Regions from separate parts of the Homo sapiens genome. Here regions 2, 3, 4, 5, 6 and 7 are each linked to region 1. The links come from fine-mapping of genetic effects on gene expression. A gene starts in region 1. Each other region holds a variant in brackets. All regions are shown on one strand. Distances are between the middles of the regions.

Region 1 (4,065 bases):
GGCCTTGGCCTCCCAAAGTGCTGGGATTACAGGCATGAGCCACCACGCCTGGCTTCTGTCTTTCTGTCTCTTTCTCTCTCTGCCTCTCTTTCTCTCTCTTTGCCTCTCTCTTTCTCTCCAACTTCCTCTCCCAGTTTCTCTTTCCTCTCTGCTGGTCTTTCCCTGCCTCTGCCAGCTGCTTATGCTGCTGTTCTCCCCTCTCCTTCCCCTTCCCCTAGGGAAGGGACCGTCAGGAGTGCAGCTACTTTTTCTTCCCCGAGAAGAAAGGAAAGGGGAATTCTGAATATTTTTCTTACTACCGGAGGTTTGTGTGAGGTTTTTGATCCCCTGAAATTTGTGGAAGGCTCAACACCTCAAACCAGGGGGTATCTTGCCTTGCCTGACCTGGAAGGCTCAACCCCTCAAACCAGGGGGTGTTTTGCCTTGCTGCCCTGGAAGGCTCAATCCCTCAAACTAGGAGGTGTCTTGCCTTGCTTCCCTGGAAGGTTGACCTGTTTCCTCCCTTTCCCCCTCTGAAGGTCCTTTGCACACTTCCCACTCGTGTTGTCCTCTCTGGCTGCTCCCCCAAGGGAGAATTAGGCCCCCCTCAGCATTGGCATTCCAGTAGAAATCCCACCGCAGGATCCTCCCTAAGCCATATGAGGTAGCTACGGAAACGTGGAGAGGACCCACTCACTCCGTCCAGCAGTAGGACTTGTCATCATCCACACGAACAACACCACAGGTAGGGTTGTTTGTGATCATTCACGCACACACACATTTAGCCCTCCAGAATTTGACCACCAAGGAAGTACCTTACCGGCTCCCTCGGCTTCTTCCTTTGTCTGTGCACAGAGTTGTCTCTGCAGTGTGTGAGGATGCTTTACCCTAGGTTGCCTGCTGGTTTCTTTTCACATTGCTGAGAGCTCAGGTTATTTCTTGCACTGGGTGAGTCCTGATTTCTCACCCCTGAGGCCATCACAAGAGGGTGGGGCATACCTCCTCAGGAGAGAGAACCAGAGACTGCCCCTGAAGGGGAATGTAATCACGAGCAAGCCCCCAAATTGTTATAAATAAAGTTTCCCCCCAGTGCCGCAAAAGAAATAGCACTCGAATATAAAATTTTCTTTTTTTTCTTCTCAGCAAGGCAATTTACTTCTATAGAAGGGTGCGCCCTCACAGACGGAGCAAAGGTGAGCGCACACCTGGACAAGGGAGGGGAAGGTGGTTCTTATGCCTGACCCACGTGATTCCTGATGCTGTGTCCTTCCCCTGTTGGCTAGGGTTAGACCTATAGGCTAAACTAATTCCGATTGGCTAATTTAAAGACAGTGAGGGGGTGAGTGGTTTGGCGGGAAAAATGGTTACCGCAGAGCAGGAAATCGGAATGAACCACGGTGAAGAATGAGTGAGGGAGGAGCAGGTAATCGAAAAATGTTGCTTTATGAGGAAGTTAAGTTTAAAAGTAGAAGGCAAAGAATTGAAGATACTGACATATTGATTCTTTTAAGATAAATTTAGAACTCATATCTAACAGCTGGCATGTCTGGCATGGGGCTCCGGCTGGGGCGCAGTCTTCAGCATTTGGGGCTCTGGGGTGCAGGGGGCAGAGGACGGCCGGGGCTGTGGTGCCCAACCGGTGCTAAACTCAAGCTTGGGAGGTCGCCCACGAGAAACAGTCGCCCTTCCCCACCCGCCTGCTCGGCTTGGCGGGGAGCGGGATGTCGCTGGGGGCGATGCCAGGCGGGCCGCCTCTGATAGCCTCTAGGCTCTGGCGCGCTTCCCCGCCCCTCCCGCGCAGGCGGGCGTGGGATCCCGGCTGATCCAGTCCGGGTTTTGCGGCGGAGCGGGCGGGCTGCGCGTGCGGCGGCTTCAACTGTCGCGGTAGGCAGCAGCAGGCTGAAGGGATCATGGTGCAGTACGAGCTGTGGGCCGCGCTGCCTGGCGCCTCCGGGGTCGCCCTGGCCTGCTGCTTCGTGGCGGCGGCCGTGGCCCTGCGCTGGTCCGGGCGCCGGACGGCGCGGGGCGCGGTGGTCCGGGCGCGACAGAGGCAGCGAGCGGGCCTGGAGAACATGGACAGGGCGGCGCAGCGCTTCCGGCTCCAGGTGACTGCCGGAGCGTAGTGGGATGGGCGCGGCCTGAGGGTACTCGCAGCGGCACTTTCAGCCGCCGGACCCGCCGAGGGACAGGGGATGGGGCGGGCAGAGCAGATGTGTAACTCTCCAGAATCTCTCCTTGCCCTAAGATATTCCGCACTTTCTGAGCCAGGTAGAGCACGGGGGAAGAAAGGAAACGGTAGTGTCAAGGCAGGTGGTGGAAGGCCTTTCCCTCACTGGGTCAAAGAGGAGTTTTGCTTTGTGCCAAAGAATCTCACGATTGCTGCCTATTGGAATGCGAAAACGCAAGCGTGACAACCAGTGGGATGCCAGGGGTTGAGGACTTTGGAATCGCAGAGTGTAATGGCCAAGGGGATCTGGAGAGCTTAGAGTTTTGTTTTTTGTTTTTTTTTGTTTTGTTTTGAGACGGAGTCTCGCTCTGACTCCCAGGCAAGAGTGCAGTGGTGCGATCTCGGCTCACTGCAACCTCCGCCTCCCGGGTGCAAGCGATTCTTGCTGCCTCAGCATCCCCAGTAGCTGGGATTACAGGGGCCCGCCACTACGCCTGGCTAATTTTTGCATTTTTAGTAGAGACTGGGTTTCACCATGTTGGCCAGGCTGATCTCAAACGCCTGACCTCAGTTGATACACCTGCCTCGGCCTCCCAAAGTGCTGGGCGTGAGCCACCGCGCCTGGCTGAGTTCAAGCTTCTTGATTTGTGCATTTGGATCCTAAGAGGGAGCCAGAAAGAAACCTGCCAAGTGCACAGGGAGATCTTGGCAAAGCCAGGCTAGAAGGGAAGTCTCTCTGGCTCCTGCTGTGGTGTCCAACCCCTGGCAAGCCCTTTCCATGAGCAGGTTTAGTTCCAGCCCTCCGTGGGTGGTCTGTCAACAAGCTTTTCTCCCTGCGCTGCCTTTGGATCACCTCAGTATGTGGGTTTGGAGGCGTGGAAGGGCCTGGCTGAGGGTTTGGAAGATGTGGCTTGAAGAGGGGCTTTTCCTCTGGGTGTGTGAAACACTGACCCCAGTTAAAGCCTTCTTATGTGCTGAGAGAGGGAGGGCTTGCTGTATCTGTGGGACCTGACAGGTGGGAAGGCTTTACAGGTTGGGAACCGCAGGACTCAGGAGGGTGTGCCTGGGTGGGAGACAGAAAGAGTCACAGAAAATTGTGTTCAGCAGATGTTCCGCAAGTGATTTTTGAGTTGGGGCAGAGCTGGAACTAGAACCTAGGTGCCCGCTGCACTCTGCAGCCACACTTTCGTGGAGAGGAACAGGAGAGAGATATGAGGAAGGCACCTTGCATGCCAGCCCAGGGTGTAGCCCTGCATGTTGAAGGGGGCCAGCCCCTCCACACCTGTGGGTATTTCTCCTCAGGTGGGACAAGAGACTGAGAAAAGAAATAAGACACAGAGACAAAGTATAGAGAAAGAACAGTGGGCCCAGGGGACCACCGCTCAGTATAGGGAGGACCCGCGCCAGCACTGGTCTCTGAGTTCCGTCAGTATTTATTGATCACTATCTCTACCATCTCGGTGAGGGGGATGTGGCAGGACTATAGGGTAATGGTGGGGAAAGGGTCAACAGGAAAACATGTGAGCAAAGGACTCTGTGTCATAAGTTTAAGGAAAGGTGCTGTGCCTTGATGTGTATGTAGGCCAGATTTATGTTTGACTTTATACAAGCATCTCAGTGCAGTAAACAACAGTATTGTCACCAGCATGTCTCACCTCCAGCCATAAGGTGGTTTTCTCCTATCTCAGTAAATAGAACGTAGGATCGGGTTTTACACTGACACATTCCATTCCCAGGGACGAGCAGGAGATAGATGCCTTCCTCTTATCTCAACTGCAAAGAGGCCTTCCTCTTTCACTGATCCTCCTCAGCACAGACCCTTTACGGGTATCGGGCTGAGGTATGGTCAGGTCTTTCCCTTCCCACAAGGCCGTATCTCAGGCTGTCTCAGTGGGGAGAAACCTTGGAGAATACCCAGG
Region 2 (4,065 bases), 28 kb after region 1:
CTCATTTGTACAATCATCACAAGAACATGCATTCAACATTCTTCGGACACCAGCCTCTGTGCTAGGCGACCACAACACTTTGAAGACAGAAGCAGTCCTGTGTACTGTGCACCTCTGCCAATATCTGTTTACAGGAGATAGCTGCCATGTCCCTGTCCACCCTCCCTTTTCTCTCCTGGCGATTGCGATATTGGAGTTTTAGGACACAGCCAGAGCACTTGTCATTTGTTCCTGTTGGACACCATTTTTAGGATTATCCCAAGAGCTCTGGCTGTTTCTGCTCTTCCTCCCAACATGTGCTTATCCACAAATCTGAGCACTGGACCTCTGCAACTTCATCCAAGTCACCCATAAACCTATGGATCACAGCAGACCAAGGAAAGGGCGTGACCTACACCCTTAACAGACAGACACATAACCGAGTTTTGAGCTTCCCAGCCAGATGTATCTTTAGTTCACATTTCTCTGGCTGGGCTTAGCTGGGCCCTCCCAAGTTTCCTACACATAGATTTGGGGTGGCGGCCCTGGGCACCTCAGGAAGGTGAAGCCACTTGGGATCGGGCTGTGTATGCTCAGCACCCAGCATGGTGCCTGGTACTCAGTGGGTACCCAGAGAAGGCTTGTTGAATGGAGCAATGGGTGACTTGTTATTAGGGAACCCATTTTGGTCCATTCTGATTACTTCCTCTTCTCACCTCCAATAGGGAATTTTCCAATCAGTCCCTGACCCTTTGCTCCTTTCACATTTATTGTATCTACCTCCATGATCTTTTTTTTTTTTTTTTTTGAGATGGAGTCTTGCACTGTTGCCCAGGCTGGAGTGCAATGGCAGGATCTCGGCTTACTGCAACCTCTGCCTCCTGGGTTCAAGCGATTTTCCTGCCTCAGCCTCCGGAGTAGCTGGGATTATAGGCGCCTGCCACCACGCCCAGCTAATTTTTTGTATTTATAGTAGAGATGGGGTTTCACTATGTTGGCTAGGCTGGTCTCGAACTCTTGACCTCAGGCAATCCACCTGCCTCAGCCTCCCAAAATGCTAGGAGCCATGATCTTGATTAGTGCCCATGAGGACAAATAATTCCCAGTCTACATTCAACCTATAGCTTTCTCCTGGTCTGTAGATCCTCATCTATCCACTTCTCTCATCCTCTTAACTCCTTCATCTCTCTCAGGCTGTTGAAAGAGCTTCTTTGTGCTTCTGCACTTGGTAGAAAGCAGGGACTGTGTCTTAATAGAATCCAACATCCGTTAGGCTGTGGAGTTGAACCCATTATCTCCTTTGTAAAATGGGCTTATTATTTCCATTTCATATATAAGGAAACTGAAATTCAGAGAGGGTTGCTCTCTGAACAACAATGGAGGGTTGCTCCCTCCATTCATCCTCCCATCCATGCAATAAAAATATTGAATTCTTCCCACAGTATGTTCAGGGTAACCAATCAGAAATAGTCCCTGCCTGAATGGAGCTTCCATTCTACCAGGAAACAGACATCAAATGTAGAATTACACAGAAACACTCGTTAGAAGTGCAATCAAGCAGAAGCCCTGGGTATTATGAGAATAAACCACGTGGGA[T/C]CTGATCCAGCCTGAGATGTGTGTATGTGTGTGTCAGGGAATGCTTCCTGGAGGAAGTAACATTGAAGCTGAAAACTGCATTGTCACCTGAGCCAAGGAATGAGTGTGTTTCAAGGAGGGTGAAGCTGACAACTCTAAATGCTGCTGATTTACTCTTGAGGAGATCACTGGGATGATATAGGCACAAGCCAGACTTTGTTGGGTGGGGGAGTGAGTGAAAGGTGAAGAAGTAAAGGCAGCCCGTGTAGAAAACTGGAAAAGTTCAGGAAGCGGACAAAAGACGTGGTAGTAGTTAGGGAGGGTGTAAATCTGAGGGAATCATCCCTCATCCCCCAAGATAGGAGAGACTTAGCATGTTAAATGCTGCTAGGAAAGAGCTAGCAGCAACGCACAGAGGGGGGAAGTCAAGGTAGGAATGGAGGGCTCAACCTGCCATCATTTCTTCACTGAAGAGATACCATTGAACACATACCATGTGCCAGGTGTTTTGAAAAAGGCTGACAAGGTCTATGCTCCCCCAACCCCCCAGCTAATTTTTTTGCATTTTCTGTAGAGATGGGGTCTTGCCGTGTTGTCCAGGTTGAGCTCAAACTCCTGAGCTCAATTGATCCGCCCAAAGTGCTGGGATTACAGGCGTGAGCCACTGTGCCTGGCCTCGTCTGTGCTTTTACGGAGCTTATTTTCTAGGGAGGGAGGCAGGAGGTGAGTTACAGATCAACAAGAAAACTTCAGCTAATGATAAGTGTAATGATGAGATAAAATGAGGTATGTGGTAACGGAAGGGTGTAACCCAGGAAAAGGTGAGGTCACGAGGCCTAGAGTGCTGTGCCGTGGGATGTGGTGCGGGTGACAAGTGGCCTGGGGGAGCTGAAGATATGGGGGAGAGCTGGAGTTCATGAAGGTGGAGTGGGGGCTATGGAAGAAAATGGTCAGAAAAGAGGCAGAAGGACAGAGGAGGGCTGGTCTGGAGGCCCCAGGGAGATGACAGAGTGTTACAGAGTGGGCAACTTCAGGGTCACCCTTAGTCAACTGCTGACCTCGCATCTGTTCCTTTAGACCCTCGGGTACTCAGACTCAACATTACCAACCATGAATTCAGTTCCTTCCCACCCTAACCTGCTGCTGCCCTGGCTTCCTGGTCTGGAGGGCAAAGGCGCCATTCTCCTGGGTACAGTGACTTGCAGTCTCAGTGATGACCATTGAGATGGAGACTGGATGGAGGCCCCTGAGGAGAGCAGAATGGTTCCCACATCAGGGCCCCTCTGCACCACTTTTCCAGTCTCCTCATGTCTTCTCTGTTCCTCGTCTGGGAAGTCATCTCCCTTACCCCCACAACTCCCCTCCACCAGCAGGGAGAGTCAATAGACTGGGGAGGCTGGAACCCCGGATCAGAGTCATGGCCTTGCTTTGGAGTCAAGGGGGAAGCCCAGCTGGGCGGGCTGGTCTCATGTCCTGGCATCATCTCCCCTGGGGTGGATGCCTGATGAGCCCTGCCCGCTCCTCCAGGTGTTCTTTCCTTTCCTCTCTTCCTGTCCCCCAGAACCTCCACTCTAGGCAAACATGGCCTGTTCAGTTCCACCTCCATGCGTCTGCTTATGCGGAACAAAGGAGCTTTGGGAGAATCCTGAAGGCAATGGGAACCCCAGGAGCAACCCCATCCATAACTCCTGAGGGTTGGAGTAGGGAATCTGAGGGGTGGGATCTGAGAGGTAGGATGGGTGGGAGTAGGATGTGACAGAGGTGAGGTCAGCTGCCCAGCTGCAGGCTTGGGCCCTTCTTCAGGCTCGCCTGCTAAAGCCTCTTCCTCTGCATGGCCCGGGAGATAGGGGTTTTGTCGCCAGGAAGTCCAGATGGGGTAAGAACTAGGAGGAGGTTGATCACTGCCACACCCAGGGCCCGAGATGTGCGTGGGTGCCCTGGCAGCATCGCTGACAAATACTCCTGAGGAAACAGCAGCTGGATTCACACAGGTCGTGCAATACCTAAGGTGGCTTGGCTGTTTGACTCCCTGATGATGCTACTTCTGCTGGCCCTGCTGGGGGCTGGCCTACTGGGGGCTTCCCTGCTCACCTCGTGGCATGCTCCAGCCCGGAACAAGATCCCCAGGGCCCAGAAGTGGAGGGAGGTAGCACTGCAGAAGATGGAGGACCTGGCCCAGTGACTCCGGCAGCAGGTGAGTCGACACGGGTCCCGGAGGCCCCCAGCCACAGGGGGCCTTGGCCCTCAATCCCAACAGGAGGACTACACCTCAGGATGCCCCTCCCGTCCATGACCCCAGCCCCCGCAGACACAGGGAGCAGGTGGGCACTTCCCCACCCCCAGTTCTCCCCCCATGCCAGCTCTGTGTGTGGTTGTCAGTTCTCCTCCATCCCCGGCCTTTGAGACCCTGGAGATTGGGGGCAGTGTATTCTTTCTCTGTTCTCCCAGCACTTGGCACGTGGCTCAGTAACATGGGAGGTGCCCACTTAGGGTATTTGCGGAAATAAGATA
Region 3 (4,065 bases), 62 kb before region 1:
CTAAGGGAACTTAGAGTCCGGCGGGATCCTCCGTATGCTGAACGCTGGTCCCCTGGGCCCCCTTATTTCTTTCTCTATACTTTGTCTCCATGTCTTTTTCTTTTCCAAGTCTCTCGTTCCACCTAACAAGAAACACCCAAAGGTGTGGAGGGGCAACCCACCCCTTCATTTTTTGTTTACAACTTTTGGAGACAATTTTTCAACATGTCTCAACTTTCTGACTTATTACAAACTTTTTTTCTTTAAACAAACAGTTAATTTATTTCAGGACAAGAATTTACCATATAACACTCTTTTTACATAAATTTTGCCTGCCCCCCTTTTTTTTTCTTTTTTTGAAGATAACCATTCCTTATGTCTTTGGACTAGACTGTCCAAGGCCACAAGATTAGAAGTTACCATAATACATGTTACACTGTTAACTTTTAGCAAACGTCACTTTTGTTGAAAACCTTGTAAGTTTGGGATTTCAATTATCCTTTGCTATTAATAAGACCTTGTTTAGTCTAAATTAACTTAGAATTGGTATAGATGGCCTCTTTTTCTCTCTGCTGGTCTTTCCTTGCCTCTGCCAGCCATTTATGCCGCTATTCTTTTTTTTGAGATGGAGTCTTGCTCTGTCGCCCGGGCTAGAGTGCAGTGGTGCGATCTCAGCTCACTGCAAGCTCCGCCTCCTAGGTTCATGCCATTCTCCTGCCTCAGCCTCCCCAGCAGCTGGGACTACAGGTGCCTGCCACCACGCCCAGCTAATTTTTTTTTTTTGTATTTTTAGTAGAGACGGGGTTTCACCGTGTTAGCCAGGATGGTCTCGATCTCCTGACCTTGTGATCCGCCCGCCTCGGCCTCCCAAAGTGCTGGGATTACAGGTTTGAGCCACCGTGCCCGGCCATTATGCTGCTATTCTCTTGACTGCTGTGGGGGGGAAGGGGGTCTAAAACCAGCTGTAACTGTCTATGTACAGAAACTGGTCTGGGTGCCTTGGCTTACAGGTGGCCTTCTGTCATACCTTTGAAACAACGGACCTGTCCAGGCCAACCCACCTCTAATGCTGTCCAGTCTATTTCACACAAAGTTTTAAGTTTTCCTGGTGCCACAGTAACACCGTAATCTCCCTTAAATTCTCTCTTGAAATTCTCTTTTTAACATAGTTCCTAGTGGGGTGGGCTTATTTGCCTGACCCATGCTGCTTTTTTTTTTTGATACAAAATACCATGCTCACATCACACACACTCACCACAAGACAAAGAACAGGTAAAAAGGGCACACATACACTTTTACCGTTTATACCAAACCAAAATCACGAAATTCAAAATCCGAGTACCAAAAAATCCAAGACAAGTCAAAACCAAAACCAAAGTATCCAGCAATTCAAGTCAAGTTAAAACCAGAACAAAAGTGCCAATGCAGACCCGCCATGGGTGATCAGGCCATGCTTCCACTCAGATGGAGTGGGGCAAGTTCCAAAGACTAGTCTTACCAAGTTTCAGATGTCCGGACTCCAAGTGCCAGTTCCTTCCTGGTGTTCAGCCACTGTGTTAATCCTCTGTGGGGGCCTGCTACATGCTGCTCTGGCGACGCGTTCCACTGGGGCAATTGCCTACCCGGGAGCACTCTTTGGATCGCGTCACTCAAGCTGTCTGGAGTCCCCCACAGGGACGCTCCACAGGGCAGG[T/C]TTAAGCCGGCCGTCAGTCACCTCGCTTCCCGGTCAGGGAACCAAGAAATGTAGCAGGACAAGCCGCAGACAAAAACCTCTCAGACACCGAGTTGTAGAAGGAAGGGCTTTATTCATCTGGGAGCATCGGCAAGCTACTGCCTTAAAATCCGAACTCCCCGAGTGAGCAATTCCTGTCCCTTTTAAGGGCTCACAACTCTAAGGATTTCACATGAAAGGGTCGTGATTGATTTGAGCAAGCAAGGAGTACGTGACAGGGGCTGCATGCACCGGTGCTCAGAGAGAAACAGAACAGGGCAGGGAGTTTCACAGTGTTCTTCTATACAATGTCTGGAATCTATGAATAACATCGGTTTTTAAGTTATGAGTTGATTTTTAACTACTGGGTTTAGGTCAGGCAGGCCAGGGCCTGGTTTCGGGCCTGGCGCCGGGCTGCCTGTCTTTGGTTTTACTTCCTTGTTTTTTTTTTTTTTTCTTAAAACAGGTACTGAGTATAAAACAATATAAAACCATATGAGAAGTTCTCTCTCTTCCCTCAAACTCTTATAAGACTTAAAGTTGTGGCCGGGCACGGTGGCTCATGCCTGTAATCCCAGCACTTTGGGAGGCCGAGACGGGCGGATCACGAGGTCAGGAGATTGAGACTATCCCGGCTAACACAGTGAAACCCCGTCTCTACTAAAAATACAAAAAATTAGCTGGGCGTGTTGGCGGGCGCCTGTAGTCCCAGCTACTCGGGAGGCTGAGGCAGGAGAATGGCGTGAACCCGGGAGGCGGAGCTTGCAGTGAGCTGAGATCGCGCCACTGCACTCCAGCCTGGGGGACAGAGCGAGACTCCGTCTCAAAAAAAAAAAAAGTTGTTATTTCACAAACACAAAACTAAATAATATTACAAGGCTGAGTATGTGCAGTATTAAACTATATTTGTTATTCTCACCTGGTTTTTACCTTTCCTAAGACTTTTAAATAGCGATTCTATTATTACTAATTTTTGGCCCTTGCTTGTTTAACCTCCTAGTAACATTTGTGTCTTCTAGACTACAATAATTCCACATGAAAACAATGCTGGCACAAGACTTCTAACCCATCCCATCTTCTGACTTAGAAAATAAAAACAAGCAGCTATTAGACCCATCAGATTAGGTATCCAGAGATTGTCACTCCTCCAATGCTAGGCAGGGCCTATGACCATAAAATTAGCAGAAAACAGCTACAGAAGATGGCCCTCTTCCCTTCTGCAGCCCATTTAAGGTCTTTTTAAAGAGAGAGTCTCACTCTGTCCCCCAGGCTGGAGCGCAGTGGTGCTATCTTGGCCCACTGCAACCTCCTCCCGAGTTCAAATGATTCTCCTGCCTCAGCCTCCTGAGTAGCCTGGACCACAGGCCTGTGCCCCACGCCCAGCTAATTTTTGTATTTTTAATACAGATGGGGTTTCATTATGATGGCCAGGCTGGTCTCGAACCCCCGGCCTCAAGTGATCTACCTGCTTTGGCCTCCCAAAGTGCTGGGATTACAGGCCTAAGCCACCACACCTGGCCGCCCCTTTAAGATTAAGGAGGAGTATCTAATCTCTGAGGGGGAATGAAGTAGGGGACTGGCAGGAATTATTTCCAGCTCCCAAGGTGCCGCTTAGATAAAATGAAGAAACCGGCAGGAACCAGCAGATGGCAACAAAAACCATCCCTAGCTACCCTCACTGGTCATTAGCATAAGATACTTCCTCTGGGGCATATTTACAGATGCTATGGCAATGACCAGGAAGTTACTGCCCCTTTCCTAGAAAGTTAGGAATAACCTGCCCCTCAATTTGCATTAGCCTGCTTCTTAATTTGCATCTAATTAAAAGTGGGTGTAAGTGGCTATAAATACAGTTGCTAACAGGACAAGAGCGGCTCTGGGCACACTGCCTATGAGTTGTCTCTACTCTACAAGGAGTAGCTCCAGTTCAATAAAAATTGCTGTTTGACCACTCATGGTGGCTGATGCCTCCAATAACAGCACTTGGGGAGGCTGAGGCAGGAAGATTGCTTGAGCTCAGGAGCTTGAGACCAGCCTGGGCAACATAATGAGATCTTGTCTCTACAAAAAATACAAAAATTAGCTGGTCATGGTGGTGGGCACCTGTGGTCCCAGCTACTTGGGTAGCTGAGGTGGGAAGCTTGTTTGAGCCCAGTAGGTTGAGACTGCAGTGAATTGGGATTGCACCACTGCACTCTAGCCTGGGTGGCAGAGTGAGACCCTGACTCAAAAAAAAATTGCTGTTTAACACCACCGGCTCACCCTTAAATTCTTTCCTGGGCAAAGCCAAGATCCTTCCCAGACTAAGCCCCAGTTTTGGGGCTCGCCTGCCTGTCTGCATCTAAACCACAGCCCTGCACAAAAACCATCACAAC
Region 4 (4,065 bases), 630 kb before region 1:
TAGGCCTATGCCTAATCTTAACATTAAGTCCCTTCCTAATAAATTAGTTCCTGCTTCAGGAATTAACAAGAACTTAGTAGTAACCAACTTATTCTTATATTTGACTTCGGTTTCCTCTAGAGTTTTTGCCCTGAACCCTCCCCTTTAACTCCTGAGACAGTATGGTCTTCTGCTGACCAGGCTAAACCTGATGGGAGAAAACATAGCGGGAAGCAAGCCGCTCCCGAATCTACTAAGAAAGTGACTGTCTCCGATTTGGGTCCCACTGTTAAACTTATCAAGGGCTCTTGGTGGGACACGAGATGGAAGATGTAGAGCCCCTGACCCCCCTATTCTTCAAACGTCATGAGTGGAAGGACTTTCTTTTCCCTCTCCCATTTGGGACATTTCCTCTTAGAATGTCCTGGCTTTCCACACCTGAAACATCTGTTTTCCCTTCTTCCCCTCCCTGTTCCCTGACTCTTGGTTTTCATCCCTTTGCTTCCTGTATAGGGTCTGGCAGCCAGGGTACTTAGAAGGTTTACAAGTTCTAGTTCCCTGGGCTCCCTGTTGAAGAGTTCCCTGTTGTAGGGTGTACAGCATAATTTTTGCATCTTGCTTCTGCCTTTCCTCATCCCTTCATACATATACCTCTTGGGCCTCTCTTAAAAGTTCTTCTATGGGACGGTCTTTCCAATATTCTATCTTTTATAATTTCTTTGTAATGTCTGGCCAACTATTGGTGACAAAGTGGAGCTTTAACATCCCTTGTCCCATTGGATCCTCTATGTCCAAACTTGCATATTTCCTTATCTGTTCCTTAAATCTGTTCAAGAATTCCATGGGTCCTTCATCTTTCCCTTGTTGTATATTAAATGCTCGGGAAATATCTTGGGTTTGAGGAATGGCTTCCCAAATCCCTTTAATTATCATATCTCTGAGATCTCTCATGTTTTCTTGGTGGGCCGCACTGTTATTATTCCATTGAGGATCCTGGGCTGGGAATTTATGCTCCACTGCAAGGACATTTTGACAAGAGGGGTGCTTGTGCTCCTAGACTATCACAGCGGCCCTGCGGATCATGGTTCTTTCCTAAGAAAAGAATACCTAGAATAGACATTACTTCAGCCCAAGTGTACAGTTGTGGCCCCAGAAATTGGTAAATTTGATCTGCGACTCCAAAAGAGTCATCTAACTGGTTTGAGTTCCTTTTCTTTAGATTTCTAACCTCTGAACTGGTTAAGGGGGCATTTATGAAGCCAATATCCCCTCCTCCTAGTGGTTATTTCCCTTAAGGGAAAAAGAGTTGGGGCACACTTCTTTGAGGAAGAGGGGAAACGAAAGTTTTGAATATCCCTTGGCATTGTTCTATTTCCCGTTGGAACTTTCCTGAGGAAGGGGCATGTTCGGGTGGCTGTCCAATGGGGGTGTGGGGTGTCAAGGCCCATGGGGCAGGGTTATATGGGGGAGGGACTGAGTGTTCAGCTTGGGGCAGAGGGTTAGGCGGGAGAAGGTGGTCTAGAGGATCCCATGCATCTTTAGATAGGGGATATGACTTAGCTAGGTCGTCTTTGGGGGATTTTAAGTTTGGCTTTGCTTTTTCGTCCTTTAGGGGATAGAGAAGGAGAGGTCCTTGTCTCCAACATAGAGCATAATCTATCTCCTCTTGAGAAACTGGACTTTTATCATTGACATATTGGATCAGGAGTTGGCATATCCAGTCCTTGTTCAACCCAAACTTTGGCCAAAAGACCAAAGGTCTGAGGATGGGTTCCTTAGTCCAAATAAAACAGCAATACTTTATCATTTGTTGTCTTTTCTTGTGTTTGGTCCTTTCATTATCCTTGCAGTATTTTAACATAAGGCCTAGGGGCCTGTCGGGGGAATTTTATTGTCTGCTTGGCCTCTTATAGTCCCTGTCTTACTTGGGGTATTTCCCATCCTGGGGGCTGATGAGGCTCAATCTCTTGTATTAGAGATTTCTTGCACTCCCATATCCTAAAGGTTCAACCTCCCCTTTTCCCACTGGAGGTTTCTTTCTTTTTTTCTTTTTTTTGAAGACGGAGTCTCACTCTGTCACCCAGGCTGGGGTGTGGAGTGCAGCGGCGATCTCGACTCACTACAACCTCTGCCTCCCGGGTTCAAGCCATTCTCCTCCCTCAGCCTCCCGAGTAGCTGGGACTACAGATGCATGACAACATGCCCGGCTAATTTTTTTGTATTTTTATTT[A/AT]TTTTTTAAATTTTATTTATTTTTTTTTTGAGATGGAGTCTTGCTCTGTCGCCCAGGCTGGAGTGCAGTGGCACAATCTTGGCTCACTGCAAACTCCGCCTCCCGGGTTCACACCATTCTTCTGCCTCAGCCTCCTGAGTAGCTGGGACTATAGGCACCTGCCACCATGCCTGGCTATTTTTTTGTATTTTTAGTAGACGGGGTTTCACCATGTTATGCAGGATGGTCTCGATCTCCTGACCTTGTGATCCAAAGTGCTGCCTCGGCCTCCCAAAGTGCTGGGATTACAGGCGTGAGCCACCGTGCTCAGCCTTTTTTTGTATTTTTAGTAGAAACGGGGTTTCACCGTGTTGCCCTGGCTGGTTTCAACTGCCTGAGCTCAGGAAATCTGCCCACCTCGGCCTCCCAAAGTGCTGGGATTACAGACGTGAACCACCATGCCCGGTCCCCACTGGAGGTTTCTTGCACTCTCGTGAGCACTCACTTCGTCCTTATTGGCTAATTCCCTTGTGAGAATTTTAGGCCCCTGTTAGCATTGGCAGGTCAGTATAATCCCCCAACTGGAAAACGGCCCTAAGCCGTATGAGGTGACCATGGAACCAAGTCTGGACTCTGCACTCGCATCACCCGCAATGGCGCATCTCACTTACACACTTTCAACCTCCAGAGACCCTGACTACCAAGGAATACTTTGTTGCCCCAGTAGGGACATTTCTTACCTTGGTCTGTGCACAGAGTTATCTGGTCACCATGGAGTTCTTAAGGATCCTCCCTACTGCCCACGTTGCTGAGAGTCTGTATTTATTTGTCACTTCCTGGGGGAATCAATCCTCCACTCCTGGGGCCACCACAATGAGGCAGTGGGATGCATCTCCCCATAAAAGATAATTGCTAGCCACTCCCAAAGGAGAATGGGATCCCAGATGAGCCCCCAAATTTGTTGGAAACAAGTGGTTGGCATAGCCAAAAGAAACCTGCACTTAGACAGAAAATTTCTCAGCAAGGCATCTTTACTTCTGCAAAAGGGTGCTGCTTGCACCTGTTACAATCACAAGAGCACACCAAACAAAGGAGGGAAGGAGTTTTTAATCCTAATGCAGTCCCTGTGTCTGTGTCCTTCCCGTATTGGCTGGGGTTGGACCACAAAATCTAAGCTGATCCTAATTGGCTAACACTTAAACTTTTCCAAATAGCATAAATGCATGATTTGTGAAAAGAAGAAGGAAATGGGGGGTAGGATTGATTTACAACTTCTGTAACTTGTGACCGGGAAGTTGAGTCTTTGAAGAAGAACTTAGTTGTCCCAACGTTGCCAGTATATTCTTCCAATTTGTGGTTTATCTATACCTTTTATTTATTGTCTCTTGTTGAACAAAAGTTCATAATTTTAGCAATTTATCAGACTATTTATGTTTTGCACTTTTGGTGTGTGCTTAAGAATGTCTTCCCTCCCCGATATCATAGAAATGTTATATTTTCTTCTAAAAGTATTATATTCCATCACATTTAATTCTTTCAGTCACTAGGGATTAATTTTTGTGTACAGATTGGGATAGGGATCCAATTTCTTTTTTTGTTTTTCCTTATGTATAATCTGTTGTCATAACACTCACTATGTATTCAATAGATCATATTTCCCAGCTGATCTGCAGTATCAGCTCTCCCATGTAATGTTTTCCTTTGGGCTAGGATCAATTCTCTATTTAATTCTATTGCTCTATTCACCCATGCCTTACTGTTTTAATTGCTGTAGCTTTGTGATAAGTCTTGATATCTGGTAGGACAAGTTTCCCTATCTTGTTCTTCGTCTTCAGTGGTGTCTTAGCTATTCTTGGTACTCTTGGTTCTTTCACATA
Region 5 (4,065 bases), 65 kb after region 1:
GCATCTGAGGGCTTTGGAAGCAGACAGAGCTGGGAACCAGGCCCTGCTTCTCTGCCTGTCCACTCAGTGGCCTTGGGTAGTGACAACAGCAACCATTCCCCCAGAGATCTCACTGGATCACAGTGTTTCTATTCTCCTACAAGGCCCACGCTGTAGGGGTCCTGTGAGTTGGCATGATTAACTCACGAATGAGAAACTTGGGGCTCAGGGAGGTTGCCTGGCTAGAAAGAGGCAGGTGGAGTGCGGAATTGAACCCCAATCCATCAGACTCCAACAGTCACACTTGTAACCACTGTACTACTCTGCCTTCCTAGATTGTAAATGATTGTCTTCCTTTCTGCCTCCCTGGTTTCAGTGCTGTCACCAGCTGTGTGGGTCTAGAAAAAGTGACTTCCCTTTGAACTTTGTTTATTTCATCTGTAAAAAATGGGTGAACAACAGTTGCCCAGGGCAAGGGTTAGGGTAAGGAGAATTTTAGTAAGTATTTGGCTTAATGAATACTCATAACCACCCCTGCAATATCTGCAGACAACTTAGCCTGGGGGGTGGGGGTAGGAAGGGATGGGGCTGAAGGGGAGAGAAAGATGCCAGATTTTCCCAGGAAGCAGCTCATGAACAGACCACAGGCCCTTCCTGGTGCTTGGGACCTGGACACCTCTAGACTGGCACCTTCCCCTGCCTTCCCAGCTCCATGCCTGGACACCTCTAATAGGAAAGAAGCTCATGGCCACTCTCAGGGCCTGGAGTGGGGCTGATGGGTCTCCCAACTCTGGGAAGGGGTGTCTTGGGCAGGTGAGGGTCCCGCTCCCAGGCCACTCCTTCCCATCCCGTACTGCAGCCAGGCTCTTGCTGCCTGTTCTTAGTAGTTGGAATAATAGATGATTATGAGGCTCTGGAGGGCAGCTGCTGAGAGGTAATGGGCTGTTGCCCTACCTTACCTTTCCCTAGGTGCCCCCAGCTCTGCTCCCTCACAGGTGCACGTTGATGCCCCCATCCCCCAGGCTCAGGCTGCACCTGTCCCTGCTGCCACACAGGGTGTTGTGCTGCTTGGCTGCCTGGGAGCTGGTGCTGGGTGTTCTCTCGGGGTCCCATTGCCGTTGCTGACATCACAGCAAGAGCCTCACCCCAGCCTCTGCCTGCCTCAGAGGACGGCTTGCCAGACAACCAGAGGGAGCTGGAGAGTGCCACCCACTCCTTTGCCCTTCCTCCTTTGCAGCCCACCCCAGCCAGGCTTCACAGGCACCAGACCAACTGCTCTGAATCCCACCATGACTCCTCAGCATCCCCAGGGGAGAGCCAAATCCCTCAGCTGGCATTCAAGGCCCTACACAATCTGGCCTCAGTTTGCCTTCTGGTTTCTCTCCTGGCACACTCTCCTGAGCTCCACTCTGTCTGCCTTTGCCAAGCTGTGGGTTACCCTTGTATCCTTGCCTAGCACCCCCTCTAGATTCAGCATCGGCCTGAGAGGTGGGGAGCCTCTTCCTCTTCAGCCCCCTCTGCCCCGTCCTCACCTGGTCCTAGCAGGGAGCTGGTAGGGATCCTTCTGGGACCCTGGTCCCTGGCTGGGGGTGGGGGTGAGCCACAGAGGAGGAAAGGCTGAAGGGTGGGTGGTGCTCTCAGCCTTCCTCCAGTTGTCTGGCAAGCCATCCTCTGAAGCTGGCCTAATTCCCTTCAGAGCCCGGCTCCCATCTTCAGGGTGGGGCTTAGGGAGCTGAGAGCCCAGCGCTAATGCCTAAGAAAGTCGTGGGTGGATTAGAAATCGAGGGGGATTAGGGCCAGAGCTGGTGGCTGATGCAGGAGCGGAGCCCCTCCCTCTGAGGAAGAGGAGGCTAATCCTGCTTAGCGACTGAGGAGCTGTCATGCTGACGGGGGCTTCTTCCCATCCACTTGGGCTGCCCAG[G/C]CCCAACAGGAGCAGCATGAACACCCATCCACTCCCTCTGTCCTCCAAACTTTTTGTCTCGTGTCCCTCCAAGCCATCCTGCTCTGCCTTGTCCTCCACAGAGCCCCAGCCCTCCACATAACCTCAAAACTTCTCATGCTGCTGTGCCCACCAAAACTGCCCCATCTAGCCATGTCCACCAACATTCATTACCACCTACATCTCCATGAACCGAGCCATCGCTAGGGCCCATTCATCCCTCTGCCCAGAAAGTCTGCAGTGGATGCTGTGGTGCTGCCCAGATTGCCCTTGAGGGCCGAGACATTCCTGCAGTGCTGGGAGTGTTGGCCGCTGTGGCCTCACGGTTGAGTTCCTTCCCGGGGAAGTGTCCTCAGCTGCCTCTCCCAAGGTTATGTCCCCTTGTTGGGGGCAGTCCACAGGCGACTGGTCAATGCGGGAGTCTGGCCTCCCCACTTCAATCTGGGACATCTCTGAAAGGCCATCCCAGCAGCAGAATGGGATGTGAGACTGGCCAAGGCCACTGTTGCAAGGGCAGCCCAGTTCAACCTCTCCCTCTGGCTGTTGCGGTGTCCCTACTGCCTCACCAGGCCATTGTTCCCCAGAGCATTCCAAAGACCCCACTGCACACTCCCTTCCTGATCTCTGCAAGAAATCTCACCTTTCACTTTCTTAAGTCCCAGGTTCGAGGATGGAAGATTAGATTGATCAGGGAAGGGTCTGGATTAGGAACTTCTGACCTGGATATTGAGTGAGGACCAGCAGTCCCTTCCCTGGGGATTAATCCTCCTCAGGGCTCCTTTAGTTTTAGTGGTGTAGGTAGCAGCCCCATGGGCTGAGAAGGGAGAGAGGTGCTGCCTTGGAAAGCCAGTCTGGGATCCTGGCCTCAAGGGGGAGGCAGATTCTGTCTGGGGAGCTGATTAAGGAATGGGAGCTTCATCTGAGAGTGGAAACAAATCGTGCCTCCCTTCAACTCCCCATGAGTCTGGCTTGAGAGGAGAGGCAGAAGTCTGACTTGGGACCCTGCTCTGAGCAGGGAGGAAGGACTCTATAATGAGAGCTGAGTCTGAGGGTGCAGGCTGGCCTCTAGACCAAGAGAAGAGGCCGGTGCCAACCCAAACTGCCTGCTCTACTGGGTCCCTGGCCCCACCATCAGCTGGGTCTTCGCTTGCCAGCCTTGGCTGGCTCTTCAAGCAGGCAGCCAGTGTGATGCCTGCACTGGGGGAATGGGTCTATGTGTTAATAATGGGAGGGCATTGGAGAATAACTAGAGAGGGTGTTGGAGAATAGCTGGCTCCTTGGTGCCATCAGGGTTGAAGCTCTGTGGGGATGGAGACCTTCCTGCATGCAGGGCCTCTGAAAAATGCTGGTCCCAGGGTAACTTGAGAGCAGGGGCAGGGAAGGGGATGGATTGACCTTTGAGAGTCAGTTTGGGATGTGGGGTCAGTGGAGGGGGACCACTCCCACTCTGTTCCCTACCTTTGATGGACAAATGCTAATGACATTACCAGCGATTGACTAGAAACGAATAAATAATTCAGTCTGGCCTGAAAATGGGAGAAAAGTACTTAAATGCTATTGACAAGCCAGTCCCTGGTCTCATTACCCATGCAGACTCAGGCCTCCACATCGACCATGTCCCCCGATTCCTCCAAACCCCACTGTGGGCAGCCTCAGGCTTCCCTCCCACCAACCTGCCCCAAGTAGCGTGTGCGGAGGGTTACCTGAGGAGACCAGGTGGAGGGCTGAGGCTTGTGGCTCAGACCACAGGGACCCCACTGCCCAAAGGACAGCAGTCCCCCAAGTTCTTCCCCTTTTCCCAGATACTGGCAGCAGCGTCTCTTCACAGGCAGGGCGGTCCTGGGAAGTCCCTCTGTAGCCCCGCTCCAGGTGTACATGCACAGGGGTACAGGCGGGCACTCACAGGGACACACAGAGCCCGCCCCACAGCTGCGGCATCCTCTTCCAGGACACAAGAAGAACAGTGACCCCCAGGGCGGCTGTCAGTCACTGTGCTCTCTGGGAATACAAACTCATTAAACGTTTCCCTGCCTTGTCCCAGGGGCCCTAGTCCCCGAGTCAAGCCTGAGGAGAAGGAGGAGGAGGAGGAGGAAACAAATGTGCAGCTGATCCTTTCAAAGCACATCCTGTATTTCTGACCCTGGAGA
Region 6 (4,065 bases), 22 kb after region 1:
GGGCACAGGGGAAGCAGAGATATAGGTGAGGACAGATCAAGGTGGACTTGGGCAGCCAGGTCAGGAACTTGAGTTCTGTCTCAAGGACAGTGGGACTCTGGAAAGATCATAGCTCGGCCTGAGGACTAGACTCGTGGGGCAAAACCTGTAGAAGGGTAAAGAAGCTGCTCCATGATCCCTAATTTGGGGAGAGGGGCCTAAAGCCTGAACCTTGGCCCAGGGGTAAAGAGGGGCCCTTTGGGAATTGACAGGATGGAGGTGAGCTGTCTCAGCTCGTCTGCTATCCACCTCTTACTGGACTATGTCACCTGGCTGGTAGAAAGGTGGCATCTGTAGCCGACCCTAGGAGTTTCCTTCTTTTTTTTTTTTTTTTAGCAGAGTTTCGCTCTTGTTGCTCAGGCTGGTGTGCAATGGTGTGATCTCGGCTCACTGCAACTCCGCCTCCTGGGTTCAAGCAATTTTCCACCTCTTGGGTTCAAGTGATTCTCCTGCCTCAGCCTCCTGAGCAGCTGGGATTACAGGCATGCGCCACCATGCCCGGCTAATTTTGTATTTTTAGTAGAGACGGGGTTTCTCCATGTTGGTCAGACTGGTCTTGAACTCCCGACCTCAGGTGATCCGCCCACCTCGGCCTCCCAAAGTGCTGGGATTACAGGTGAAAGCCACCATGCCCGGCTGACCCTAGGAGTTTCTTAACCCCATTAGCCCAGTTGCTTTGCTCTTCCCTGGCCCCAGCCCTAATTCTCCTGCTGGCTGGAGATGTTTCAGAGCCTGAGCCCTCTAGGTAGGGCAGGTCCACGGCTCCTACCTGTCTGTCTCAGATTCTTTCTAGAAGAGTTGCCTTCCCAAGACTTCCTTCTCCACCCTGGTTTTCATACTCCTCCAGAAGTGCTTTGCCCTCCAGGTTGCCACACCCATTGGCGCCTGCACCATCTCCCAGTGCCATCCCTGCCTCTGTGGGGCCATTTTCAGGGCAGAGGTGAGGTCCCAACCTACATGGGGACACCCAGATTGGGACATCTAGGTAGATGCTGCACTTTGCCCTGATTTCTTGTAACCACTGCTGTAATTTTGCCTTTTTCATAAAACCACTACCATCTGCCCCAGCTTCCTCCTCCTGCCCCATTTCTCTCTTTCAGTTACCGATATCTTTGTGCCTTCAGACACGAGGCTGCAGAGTGGAGGTGCCTTCACTCGTTCATTGATTCAGCCCTTGGAGCCTCAGCATGGCCATGTCCAGACCTCAGCTGACCTGAGTCAAGCCTGGGCTTCTGGGGACGTGGACATTGACACAAACACATCTGTTCCTCCTGTGATTAGGGCTGGGGGACAGGATAGACAAGGGGTCAAATGCTGCCAAGGGGAGGGGGAAGTGGTCACTGAGGCTAGTACATGGCCACTGTGTTTCATCTCCACCACCATGCTCTAGTCCAAGCCACCTCCCTCATCTGGACGCTGCAGTGACTTCCCTTCTGGGCTCCCTGCTTTCAACCCTGGCTGCCCTCTAATCCATTCTCCACACAGAGCTGGAATGATCTTTTAAAAGTATAAATCAGGCTAGGCGCAGTGGCTCATGCCTGTAATCCTCGCACTTTGGGAGGCTGAGGCGGGTGGATCACCGAGGTCAGGAGCTCCAGACTAGCCTGGCCAACATGGCGAAACCCTGTCTCTACTAAAAGTACAAAAAGTCTTGACAGGCATGGTGGCGTGCATCTGTAGTCCCAGCTACTGAGGAGGCTTGGAACGTGGCTCCAATGTCACCTTCCCTGCTCACCCATTTATAAAACGGCCTCCTTT[A/G]TTTCTTTTTCTTTTTTTGAGACGGAGTCTAGTTCTGTTGCCAGGCTGGAGTGCAGTGGCGCGATCTCAGCTCACTGCAACCTCCACCTCCTGGGTTCAAGCAATTCTCTTGCCTCAGCCTCCTGAATAGCTGGGATTATAGGCAAGCGACACCACGCCCAGGTAGTTTTTTTTTTTTTTTTGAGATAGAGTCTTGCTCTGTTGCCCAGGCTGGAGTGCAGTGGCGCGATCTTGGCTCGCTGCAACCTCCCTCTGCCTCCCGGGTTCAAGCGATTCTATTGCCTCAGCCTCCTGAGTAGATTGAATTACAGGCACGCGCCACCATGCCCAAGCTAATTTTTGTATTTTTAGTAGAGACAGGGTTTCACCATGTCAACCAGGATGGTCTTGATCTCCTTACCTCGTGATCTGCCCGCCTCGGCCTCTCAAAGTGCTGGGATTACAGGTATGAGCCACCACGCCCGGCCTTGGTTTCTTGATTATCTCAAGCTGGGCCCTGCTTCAGAGCTTTCATGTTAGCTCTTCTCTCTGCTTGGAACACGCAGCTCCAATGTCACCTTCCCTGCTCACCCATTTATAAAATGGCCTCCCTTGTTACTCTCTTTTCTTTTTTCTTTTTTTCTTTTTTTCTGAGACGGAGTCTTGCTCTGTTACCCAGGCTGGAGTGCAGTGGCATGATTTTGGCTTACTGCAACCTCTGCCTCCCGGATTCAACCAATTCTCCTGCCCCAGCCTCCCAAGTAGCTGGGATTACAGGTGTCTGCCACCATACTCAGCGAATTTTTGTATTTTTAGTTGGGACGGGGTTTCAACATGTTGGTCTGGCTGGTCTTGAGCTTGTGATCTGCCTGCCTGGGCCTCCCAAAGTGCTGGGATTACAGGGGTAAGCCACTGCACCCGAGCCCTTGTTTCTTTCTTTCTTTTTTTTTTTTTTGTTTTTTTTTGACAGAGTCTCACTCTGTCGCCCACGCTGGAGTGCAGTGGCACAATTTCAGCTCACTGCAACCTCCGCCTCCTGGGTTCAAGCGGTTCTCCTGCCTCAGCCTCCTGAGTAGCTGGTATTACAGGCGTGCGCCACCACGCCCAGCTAATTTTTGTATTTTAGTAGAGATGGGGTTTCACCATGTTGGTCAGGCTGGCCTCGAACTCCTGACCTCATGATCTGCCTGCCTGGGCCTTACAGGCATGAGCCACCACGCCCTGCCCCTTGTTACTTTCTAATAGGTTACCCTTTGTTCTTTTTTTTTTTTTTTTTTTTATTAAGACGGAGTTTTGCTCTTGTTGCCCAGGTTGGAGTGTAATGGCAGGATCTTGGCTCACTGCAAACTCTGCCTCCTGGGTTCAAGCAATTCTCCTGCCTCAGCCTCCCAAGTAGCTGGGATTACAGGCATGCGCCACCATGCCCAGCTAATTTTGTATTTTTAGTAGAGACAGGGTTTCTCCATGTTGGTCAGGCTGGTCTTGAACTCCCGACCTCAGGTGATCCACCCTCCTGGGCCTCCCAAAGTGCTGGGATTACAGGTGTGAGCCACCTCGCCTGGCCACCCTTTGTTCTTTGTAGCATTATCACTCTCTGAGCTCTTTGATGTTTTTTTGTCTCCTCCACTAAACCATAAGCTTCCTGAGAGCTGTGCTTTGTCTTGTTCATCACTTGTTCTTGGCTTAGAGGATGGTGCTCCACAAATTCTGGGATGATAAAGTGTGGCTGTGTGAGGGGCCAAGGCACTGTGCTGGGTGCTGGCAGTGACAAATGAGGCAGCCCTGGCCCCTGTCCTCGTGGAGCTCACATTCTGGAGGGATTTGTTGAATGAACAGAAGGGGGACAGAGAGTTGTGCTAATGAAGACCTCTAAATATTTAATGTCTGGAGTGATAACATGACTTTTGATCCGGAAAAAAGGGGAAAGGGAATTCTAGACCACATTTACTGAGTACCTACTATGAGCCATCTACTTTCTGGGCACTTCACAGTCATGCCATTTAATCCTCTGTGAACCCTATGATGGGCATTTTTGCCCCCCTTTTACAGAAAGTTTACGTATCTTGCCCAGGGTCCCACAGCTAGAAGTTGGGGGCTTGGAACCGAAAGCTAGGCCAGTCTGTCAGCAACTGCATGAGGTCTTTCTGTTGATGCCAAGCCCCAGTGAGTACGATGGCCAGAAGAGTGAGAGCACAAATCAGCCTCCTCCTCATACCTCTCTGACCACCAGTGTGCTGGTGGCTACTGCCTGTTTTCATGGCCTTTCCCCTTCTCACCGGGTCCACTGCC
Region 7 (4,065 bases), 68 kb before region 1:
AACACAAACATATTAGCTGAGCGTGGTGGTGTGCGCCTGTAGTCCCGGCTACTCCGGAGGCTGAGGCAGGAGAATCGCTTGAACCCGGGAGGTGGAGGTTGCAGTGAGCCGAGATCTGTGCCACTACACTCTAGTCTGGCAACAGAGCGAGACTCTGACTCAAAAAAATAAAAAATAAAAAATACACACACACACACACACACACACACACACACACACACACGAGTAATTTTACATGAGGTAAAATCTTATGTGGTAAATTCTTGTCCTAGAGTGAAATGACTGGTTATTTATTTTATTTTATTTATTTATTTAGTTTTATTTTTTGAGATGGAGTCTCGCTCTGTCACCCAGGCTGGAGTGCAGTGGCACGACCTCGGCTCACTGCAAGCTCCGTCTCCTGGGTTCACGCCATTCTCCTTCCTCAGCCTCCCGAGTAGCTGGGACTACAGGCGCCCGCCACTGCGCCCGGCTAATTTTTTGTATTTTTAGTAGAGATGGGGTTTCACCATGTTAGCCAGGGAGGTCTCAATCTCTTGACCTCGTGATCCACCCACCTCAGCTTCCCAAAGTGCTCAGATTACAGGAGTGAGCCACCGCACCTGGCCTATTTTATTTTATTTTTGAGATGGAGTTTTCCTCTTGTTGCCCAGGCTGTAGTGCAATGGCACGATCTCGGCTCACCAAAACCTCCGCCTCCCGGGTTCAAGTGATTCTCCTGCCTCAGCCTCCCGAGTAGCTGGGATTACAGGCATGCGCCACCACACCCGACCGATTTTGTACTTTTTAGTAAAGACGGGGTTTCTCCATGTTGGTCAGGCTGGTCTTGAACTCCCGACCTCAGGTGATTCACCTGCCTTGGCATCCCAAAGTGTTGGGACTACAGGCGCCCACCACCACGCTGACTAATTTTTTTGTATTTTTTTAGTAGATACAGGGTTTCACCGTGTTAGCCAGGATGGTCTCGATCTCCTGACCTCGTGATCTGCCCTTCTTGGTCTTCCAAAGTGCTGGGATTACAGGCGTGAGCCACCGTGCCCGGGTGATAAGTTCTTAAAAGAAACAGGTTATAGTATTGAAAAGCAAAATTTCTTGTAATTTTTTTTTTTTGAGACAGAGTCTCACTCTGTCCCCCTACCCCGAGAATCAATTACAACCAAAATAAAAGAGCCTTTAATAGGTATTGTTAAGTACCCCCAACTACTATTAACCTTTAGGAAATCACTAGCTGGGTACACCTGTCCAATATTAAACCTGTTTCTTATGAGTCCCTGTAGGAGTAAAAGGAGGACATCATGACCTACACTTGTGAACTTGTAGCAGGATGAGCCGCAGACAAAACCTCTCAGACACCGAGTTGTAGAAGGAAGGGCTTTATTCAGCTGGGAGCATCGGCAAGCTACTGCCTTAAAATCCGAACTCCCCAAGAGAGCAATTCCTGTCCCTTTTAAGGGCTCACAACTCTAAGGATTTCACATGAAAGGGTCGTGATTGATTTGGAGCAAGCAAGGGGTACGTGACAGGGGCTGCATGCACCGGTGGTCAGAGAGAAACAGAACAGGGCAGGGAGTTTCACAATGTTCTTCTGCACAATGTCTGGAATCTATGAATAACATCGGTTTTTAAGTTATGAGTTGATTTTTAACTACTGGGTTTAGGCCAGGCAGGCCCAGGCTTGGTTTCGGGCCTGGCGCTGGGCTGCCTGTCTTTGGTTTTACTTCCTTGTTTTTTTTTTTTTTTTTTCTTAAAATAGGTACTGAGTATAAAACAATATAAAACAATATGAGAAGGTCTCTCTCTCCCCTCATTTCCCCCCTTTGAGACTCTCACTTTCTATTAGTGGGAGTTCTGACTTTTATTTTTGCTACTTATGTCTTTTTGTGCAATAGATTGATAGTGATTTATATAGTACACTTGTGCTAAAGCATTTTGGTGAACTAAGATAGTGATGAAGCTTTTTATCATTTGAAGAAGTACAGGTAGCAAACAAGGAAGCAGTAAACAGGTTCTTATTACTATTATAAATTCTATTATAAGAGTTTTAAATCCTTCTAGTGCTGGGAACTAATTTTTAAACATGGCTTCAGGATCGAATTCATGCTACACTTGCATGGGCACATGTGTCAGTTTTGTCATATTTTTAACTATGTCTTTA[A/G]CTACTTGCCTTTGATTATCTATGTGTAGACAGTAATTAGTAAGGTTAAATTTCTTATAGACCTCTCTTTCAGCTGCTAGCAAGTAGTTGAGAGCCAATCTATTTTGATAGATAGCATTTCTTATCTGAGTTTCTTGCTGGGCCAGAATAGTCAAGGCTTGACTGGTTTTACTAGTGATGATTTCTAAAACAGCTTGCAGCTGTATGATTCAGTTGAGCATGTAAGTGGGGGTCCAGTATCCCCATGAGCCGTCTTGTGTCTAAGTGGCAGGCCTATAGTATTATATAATTTTTTTTTGAAGGTCATTTATCATCTTTCCAATTTCCTATGGCTATGCTTCATTTTCCGCGGGAAGCATAGACAGGGAAGCCCAGGAGTTTGCCTGTTTTTATGGTCAGTAGAAAGAAAGATGGTTTAATAGTGCCAATAACACAACTACCTGTCCACTGGTCAGGCAGCTTAGCTTAAGCTCTATGTCTACGTATTCAGTATAACTTGGTGGGGGCAGTCCAGTCCCGGTGGAATTCCAGGTGGGCCCAGACAGTCTGCAACCTTGGAAATTTACTGAATGGATCTCTTTCTATATAATTGGAACTTCACCATGTAACTGTTTTTTTGCGGTACCATTATACAGTTCTTGGCCCAAACAACTAAGACATCCTATAGAATGAGTGAATTCTTTCTTTTTTCTAGCTATGTAATATTGTCCAATAATTGAGACTTTTAGAACCTAGAGATGATCAGGGTGATTCTTGTGGGCCAGGAATTCATCAGGAACTGCGTCTGTAGGCACTAATTCTTGGGCTTTTTATGGCCATTGAGCTCTTATTACAGTTTTTTCACAAACATAACATGAAGTGACATTTAGAGACTGGGCTACACGCTCGGCTAATTGCAAAAACAAATTTCTGGTTTTTCCTGGAGTCTCTTGGTACTGGCAAATTTAGTTCATCATAGAAAGTCTGAAATACTGGTTCCAGAGAGAGTTTACAAAACTCCTCTTTTACTAAGATATTTGCTGTAGGACCTAGTCTTTTCCTATTGATGCCCAGAGATACGTGTTCTCCTTTTTTCTACCTTGGGTTTAAGGGATTTGTAATTATTAATTTCAAGGGGTTCCAATGTCCACTCGTATAGGAGGGGCTGCATTCTCCTTTTTGGAGCTAAACAGGATCTTTTTCATCCTTTTTCTAAGTAGTCTAGATGACACAAGACCAGTAATTACACACATTTGCACATGAGCTTAATTCATGGCAGATATACTTATTTCCTGCCGTGTAAACTTTTTTTTTTTCAACTTAAAGAACTGCATCTTATTTTATGCCAATTACTATTGATAGTGGCACAAGCATTAAATTTTAGGGTTATATGCTTGGAGACCCCTCTTTCTTCTGTCCTAGCTATTACTTTACTTGTGTCGCCTAGAAAAGGACCAGTCATTAATTTTATTTTAAAAACTGATCATGGGAGGCTTAAAATGGGTCATAACACGCATCAGGTTGGTTATTTCCTGGGCTACATACCTTGGATAGAATTGCATTATACAAACAACTTTTAGAGTCCTGGTACACTTATAATAACCATAAAATAATAAGACTTTAGCAATCTTTTGTCCCTCAGTGACTTGATGTATATACTGGGAACAGCCCTCAGTCTTAGGAAGGTCAGTTGAAGTCCTTACAATACAAGTCCAAATTTTAAGGAAAATGAGTCCCCTGCTATGAGTTTCCTCATGCTTCAGCTGTGTGTGGACCAGTCAGCTTCCGGGTATGACTGGAGCAGGGCTTGTCGTCTTCTTCAGAGTCACTTTGCAGGGGTTGGCGAAGCTGCTCCCATCCGCGTACAGCTCCCAGTCTACTGCTGTTTAAGGATGGTCTCGGAGTTTGGGCCCACTAGAATAAACTGAGTC

Alleles and levels. Positions count from the first base shown, and alleles are read on the strand shown. Sizes are in standard deviations (SD) of each study's normalised expression. Not every link is listed here.
For the expression in adrenal gland of the gene that starts at base 1,858 in region 1, C is the high allele of the variant in region 3 and T is the other (small effect, 0.26 SD a copy in GTEx).
For the expression in unexposed skin of the gene that starts at base 1,858 in region 1, allele G in region 6 goes with a higher level than allele A (small effect, 0.32 SD a copy in GTEx).
In carriers of allele G in region 7, the expression in skin of the gene that starts at base 1,858 in region 1 tends to be higher than with A alone (moderate effect, 0.51 SD a copy in TwinsUK).

What was found. PIP is the estimated chance that this variant, and not a neighbour inherited with it, causes the effect. A credible set is the group of variants that fine-mapping cannot tell apart.
Region 2: its variant is the best candidate, but not a certain one, in a credible set for the expression of FAAH in sun-exposed skin (GTEx, PIP 0.72).
Region 3: its variant is the best candidate, but not a certain one, in a credible set for the expression of FAAH in adrenal gland (GTEx, PIP 0.61).
Region 4: its variant is the best candidate, but not a certain one, in a credible set for the expression of FAAH in skin (TwinsUK, PIP 0.57).
Region 5: its variant is the best candidate, but not a certain one, in a credible set for the expression of FAAH in lymphoblastoid cells (TwinsUK, PIP 0.55).
Region 6: its variant is the best candidate, but not a certain one, in a credible set for the expression of FAAH in unexposed skin (GTEx, PIP 0.84).
Region 7: its variant is the best candidate, but not a certain one, in a credible set for the expression of FAAH in skin (TwinsUK, PIP 0.66).

Annotation. Positions count from the first base shown.
Region 1 is chr1:46,392,460-46,396,524 of GRCh38, forward strand. It overlaps FAAH (fatty acid amide hydrolase), which reads left to right and starts at 1,858. Exons shown (of 15, transcript NM_001441.3): 1 at 1,858-2,084. The coding sequence starts at 1,890. RefSeq lists an enhancer at 1,746-2,259.
Region 2 is chr1:46,420,273-46,424,337 of GRCh38, forward strand. No RefSeq gene overlaps it. Among named protein-coding and RNA genes, the nearest start is that of LINC01398, 27 kb to the right of the region's middle. The variant T/C (reference allele first, on the strand shown) is at 1,576.
Region 3 is chr1:46,330,348-46,334,412 of GRCh38, forward strand. No RefSeq gene overlaps it. Among named protein-coding and RNA genes, the nearest start is that of NSUN4, 8.4 kb to the right of the region's middle. RefSeq lists enhancers at 1-597, 1,328-2,057 and a silencer at 3,593-3,642. The variant T/C (reference allele first, on the strand shown) is at 1,673.
Region 4 is chr1:45,759,056-45,763,120 of GRCh38, forward strand. LOC105378693 (a long non-coding RNA gene) reads left to right here. Exons shown (of 3, transcript XR_947290.2): 3 at 1,592-1,782. Among named protein-coding and RNA genes, the nearest start is that of IPP, 10 kb to the left of the region's middle. The variant A/AT (reference allele first, on the strand shown) is at 2,210.
Region 5 is chr1:46,457,321-46,461,385 of GRCh38, forward strand. No RefSeq gene overlaps it. Among named protein-coding and RNA genes, the nearest start is that of LINC01398, 9.6 kb to the left of the region's middle. RefSeq lists an enhancer at 645-1,512. The variant G/C (reference allele first, on the strand shown) is at 1,901.
Region 6 is chr1:46,414,649-46,418,713 of GRCh38, forward strand. No RefSeq gene overlaps it. Among named protein-coding and RNA genes, the nearest start is that of FAAH, 22 kb to the left of the region's middle. The variant A/G (reference allele first, on the strand shown) is at 1,798.
Region 7 is chr1:46,324,233-46,328,297 of GRCh38, forward strand. No RefSeq gene overlaps it. Among named protein-coding and RNA genes, the nearest start is that of NSUN4, 15 kb to the right of the region's middle. The variant A/G (reference allele first, on the strand shown) is at 2,156.